Linked DNA regions of Homo sapiens: region 1 is linked to region 2. The links come from fine-mapping of genetic effects on gene expression. Tissue or cell type: whole blood. Region 2 holds a variant in brackets; the other region holds the start of a gene. All regions are shown on one strand. Distances are from middle to middle.

Evidence for each region. PIP is the estimated chance that this variant, and not a neighbour inherited with it, causes the effect. A credible set is the group of variants that fine-mapping cannot tell apart.
Region 1: it holds the start of ZNF286A, and the variant in region 2 is the best candidate, but not a certain one, in a credible set for the expression of ZNF286A in whole blood (INTERVAL, PIP 0.78).

The regions. Positions count from the first base shown.
Region 1 is chr17:15,698,314-15,700,939 of GRCh38, reverse strand. ZNF286A (zinc finger protein 286A) reads right to left here and starts at 1,188. Exons shown (of 6, transcript NM_001130842.2): 1 at 1,163-1,188; 2 at 574-805. The coding sequence starts at 610. ZNF286A-TBC1D26 (ZNF286A-TBC1D26 readthrough (NMD candidate)) reads right to left here and starts at 1,188. Exons shown (of 23, transcript NR_171000.1): 1 at 1,163-1,188; 2 at 574-892. RefSeq lists enhancers at 1,065-1,384, 1,395-1,444, 880-1,491.
Region 2 is chr17:15,718,615-15,721,337 of GRCh38, reverse strand. It overlaps ZNF286A (zinc finger protein 286A), which reads right to left. Exons shown (of 6, transcript NM_001130842.2): 6 at 551-2,723. The region is part of intron 6 of ZNF286A-TBC1D26 (ZNF286A-TBC1D26 readthrough (NMD candidate)); the gene reads right to left. Among named protein-coding and RNA genes, the nearest start is that of TBC1D26, 12 kb to the left of the region's middle. The variant G/T (reference allele first, on the strand shown) is at 1,429.

The DNA.
Region 1 (2,626 bases), 20 kb after region 2:
CACATTCTGTAAGATGGCATCCTCTGATCTAGAAATTAGAATATGTCAGTAAATTTCCCAGTTTAATCTATACTCGTTGGTTCTCACTCTGAAAGCTTATTTATAATGTAGATTGCTGGACCCCACCTCAAAGTAATAAGCATTAGTTGAGCCTGGGGTACAATCCAGAAATCTAACAACCACCCCAGGGGGAATTCTGGTGTAGGAGGTCACAGCACAACCTTCATGAAACTGGTCAGGTAGAATGGAAGTCAGTCATTAACTACTACGCCTGTTTTCTCCTATGTAAAACAAAACATTTTTGACAACCAAAGAGGTGAATTCTTGCCATAGAAGTTAACATTTCACTCACATTTTGGGGGTAGCTTTGAAGGGTCCACTGTGTGCCCAGCTGCCATGGAAAGGGCGGTGCTCCCATACCAAGCCCTTCAGTCTCACTTAAAAAGCCCATCCATCCCCAAGACAATGGAGACAGCCAGCCAAGAGCCACCTCCCCTGAGCCAACCGTTTTCCCTTCAGGAGCAGGAATTTCGTCCTTCCACGCTACAAGTTCAACACGTCCGCAATTCTCACCTCCTTTCTCAGGCATTTCAGCCAAATCTGTCTCCATGATCACCACCTCCTCCTTGTTCTGGAGATTCTGCTCTTCACCCCAATTCAGATCTCCCTGGCCAGACGAGTTAGAAGCCCCCCGGGCCTCGTGGTCCCACTTCCTGCCTTCCCTCCTGGGCTCTGATGAAAGGCCTGGGTTAGATCGGGTCTCTTTCTCACCGTGGAGTCTGCCTCAGTCCTACGGCGCTGGAGCCTGGAAGCCCGGGGACAGCATCCCTGAGGCTGGGTCCTCAGATGTCTGTCCCTACCGCTTGAAGCTGTCCCTGGGGGAACCGGGCACCTGGAAGAGGTGACGCTGGGGCATCAGGAGTTTGGACAAATTCTGCCGCGCTCGGGGCACTGGCCCAGAACCCCGCGACCACCCCGCCCGTGGCACAACCGCGTCCCCCGAGGAGAGGATCAGGCCAGAGTGAGAAGGGACAGGGCTCATGGTCTGCCCTCGAGGCCCCTTTAACAAACGCGCACTCTAGCCCCGACTCGGCACAGAACGACCCGGGGAACCACCGCCGAGGCCGAGCCGAGACGAGCGACATCACCACAAGCAACTCACCTCCCATCCCGGGCCTCACAAAGGGGACGAACTTCTTTGGCCAGCTCGGAGTCGCGCATGCGTAAGAAGGAGCGGAGCCAGGCGTGCTGCCCTCATCCCGCCCGGAACTACAATTCCCAGAAGCGCCTTGGCATCGCCAGACTCCGGTTCTCCGCAGGTGGGAGCACCCGTGGTGCGGCTGGGAGAATCGGACGATCGAAGAGCTCCGTCCGTCTCGCGAGAGTATGAGGCAGCATCTCCTGTGTCTAATCCTCAGAGCAAGGGAGGGAGGGAGCAGCGGAGACGCGGACCGGAGTCAGGGTCCGTCCCCGCGCTTTGTCTGCACAAGTTCCTGCGGCACAGTGCTTAGGGCTGCTGAGTTCAACCCAAATTACTCCGGTGTAAGATACGTTAAAATACATAGCTTTTATCCATATTTTGTGCGCCCAGAACTCATCCTTTTGCTTTCAAAACATACGAAGGATGTTTTTAGGAAGAGCAGGTCCCTCTTTGTACACTCAGTCAGATGTTCCTGTATCCACAGACTACTTGTAATCCTAAAATTCATGTATTTAAAATGAGTTGAAAAGATTGAACCTGTTGTAACAAATTTAAGCAATAGGTTCTTTGCAGACATAAGCATTAGTTTAAACATATCATAAAAGGTGGTTCTTTCAAGGGAGAGTTATTCAGTCTCTCCAATTCTGTTAGAGGACTAACCCATCCACCTCCAGCTTCGTGTCTAGACTGCCCTCCTTTTCTCAGTGAATGACATTACTGCCCACTCACTCATTTGCACAAACCAGAGCCTGAATATTCTTAACTCTTTGATCTCACCATCTATTTATCACCAAGTCCTATTCATTGTATCTTAAATAACTCAATTGTTTCCATCTTTCTCTATTCTCAGTAGCATTACCTTAGTTGGGGCCACCACCATTTCACTAGGATTGCCGTTGCAGCCTGGTAACTGGATTCCCTAACTAAGGTTTTCTCTACCACCAATCTGTTCTCCACACTTTCTGGCTAGTGCTCTTTCTAAAACAAGAATATGCTATTACTTTAGTGCTTCAAACCGTTCAGTGGCTTTTAGAAACTTCAAGGAAAGATGATTTCCAGCTCCCAGAAGGGATTTGTAACTCCCATTATCTCAGCCACCTGGTAGTTACACCTTTGTGCAATCCCCTCTTGTGTATGGACTGGGACTTGCTTCTAACCAATACAGTGCAATAAAGGTGACATAAAAGTCTAACGTGTGTCTTGCTAGGAGACTCCTCTCTTGCTGGCTTTGATGAAGTGGTGGTGATGTTGGGGAGGCCCATATGACAAGGAACTGAGGATGGCCTCCAGCCAATAGCCTGCAAGAACCGAAGGCCCTTGGTCCCACAACCTGCAAGGAGCTGAACCCTTTGGACAGCTCTGTGTGCTTGGAAGTGAATCATTGTTTGTAGAGTCTTCCCATGAGAACCCTGTCTTGCCTGACAT
Region 2 (2,723 bases):
GCAACCTCTGCCTCCCGGGTTCAAGTGATTCTCCTGACTCAGCCTCCCGAGTAGCTGGGATTACAGCCATGTGTCACCATGCCTGGCTAATTTTGTATTTTTAGTAGAGATGGGGTTTCTCCATGTTGGTCAGGCTGGTCTCGAGCTCCTGACCTCAGGTGATCTGCCTCCCTCAGCCTCCCAAAGTGCTGGGATTACAGGCTTGAACCACCGCACCTGGCCCATTTTGCCTAATTTTAACTGTGCTTTTTATACGAAGTTATTCCCTCCCTTTCACCCCAATTAGCCCTACTGAGTAGTGCCTATACCTGGCCTGGGGACTCAGTACTACTTGTTAGAAACTATCTTCCTCTACTCCTTAACCTTCTTGCAGATACTTGGGTTGCTGACGGTATCTCCCATCCCATCTCTCCAGAAGTTGTGAAGCCAGATGACCAGCTAGAAATGGGATTGGTATCCTGAATGATATGGAGATATTTTTTGGTTGGTCCTTCATTACATCTTAAAATATGCTTTAAAAAAGGAAGAATTTAAAAGCAATTTACAAAAGTTTCTGACAATACATATACAAACATCTTTATTGACAAGTGAGCCAATAAGGGCACATTTAGTTTACAGATAACCAAAAACATTTGAAATGCATAACATTAAAATTTCCAAGATTCATGTTGCAGTACAAACATGTGGCAGGTTAAACATCAGGCATAAAAAGGACAAATACTGAAACGCAAAGGGCCAGAGATCCCAAGTCGCTTAACACTATTTAAAATGTTATTCAACTGCAAACTTCAGCCTCTGGAACCATCCCAGATAGCTACTGGTTAAGTGATATGAAGTAGGAAAAAAGAAGGTTCTGGAAGGTCTCAAGGAGGCTGTGCAGAAAACAGCACCAGATGGAAGCAAGAGCAGAAAGAAGTCACGTCCCATCTTTATGACAAGACACAGAACAAGATGGTCACAGTTCTTCATGGGTAAACAAAAGATGTGGAAGACACAGCCAACCTTAAGTAACTTCTACTGACGGATGCTCTGGCACTTCTCTATGTAGAGAAGGAGAGAGAAAGAGAGCACCAAGCAGGAGTGGGGGACTCTATATTTATTGTCTGCCAGTTCTTTTATATGCATTGTCTTATTTAATCCTTATGACAACCTCATGAGAAGCCAATGATTTATTCCCTTTGTTGAAACCTAATACAGATAAAGAAACTGAGACTCAGAGTAGGGAGTTTTTCCAAGGTCACATGACTGCTTAGTGGGGATGGCAGAATTCAAACTCAACTTTGGAAAGCCCATGTTGGTCTTCTTTCCTTAGTCAAATTTTGGCTCTCAAATGAATTCCTCTTCACTCAAGAATTTGGCAAGTTTCAATAACTTGAATTCTCCTAACAATATATAGTAACATCCTAGAGGTAGGAGTATTTTGATGCA[G/T]CATTTCCCATCTCTTTTATTTTTCTGTCCCCAATTATCTCTCAGTACTTTTCCATTCCACCTAGTTTCTCTGACTGGTTTAAACCCTTTATCTGACTTGATGAATGCTCTGGAACAGGGGCCAAGAAAATATTTTCTGTAAAGAGCCAAACAGTAAATATTTTAGGCTTTCAGGGACATACAACCTACTATGGGCTATATCCCCATCAAAGTCATATAATGAAACTTAACTGACGGTATTACGAAATGGGGCCTTTTGGAGGTGATTAGGTCGTGAGGGTGGAGCTCTCATGAATGGGATTAGTGCCCTTATAAGGGGCTGAAGATACCAGAGCTCTCCCCTTCTACCATGTGAAGACACAGTGAAAGGTGCTTTCTATTAACCAAGAAGCAGACCTTCCCTAGACCCTAAATATGTTGACACCTTGATCTTGGACTTCCCAGCCTCCAAAACTGTGAGAAGTAAGTTTCTGTTGCTTATAAGCTGCTCTGTTTGTGATATTAAAGCCCAGAGGCACAACCTCCGCTGCAGCTACTCAGTTCTGACACTGGACACAAAGGCAGTCAAGGACAACATGTAAATGAGTAAGTGTGGCTGAGTTCCAATAAAATTTTCTTCTGAGAAACAGGTGGTGGGCCAGAGTTGGTCCATGAGTCCAGGCCACAGTTTGTCAATTCCTGCTCTAAACCATTAGTACTAAATACTAAGATGATAAAAGAGGTGAGTTCCTTTTCCTGTGTTTTCTTTTCTTTCTTTTTTTTTTTTTTTTTGAGTAATGATACAGTTTAGATCTGTATCCCCACCCAAATCTCATGTTTAATTGTAATCCCCAATGTGGGAGGTGGGGCCTGGTGCAAGGTGACTGGACCACGCAGGTAGTTTCTCATGAATGATTTAGCACTGTCCCCCTACTGCTGTCTCGTGATAGAGTTCTCATGAGATTTGGTTGCATAAAAAGTGTGTAGCACCTCCCCTCTCTCTTTTCCTCTTGCTCTAGCCCTGTGAAGATACCTGCTCTGGCTTTGCCTTTTGCCATGAGTAAAAGCTCCCTGAGACCTCCCCAGTCATACTTCCTGTACAGCCCATGGAACCATGAGCCAATTAAACCTTTTTTCTTTATAAGTTACCCAGTCTCAGGCATTTCTTTATAGCAGTGTGAGATTGAACCGATACAGACAACAATAACAAAAAGTAGATAAATATGAAGGCCAGAGAAATGGCAACTTCTTCACGAAGGGAAGCTGCTTATCCTCAAGCAAGTCAGTTGAGGACTATCCTGTGAGCTATTTTCCGT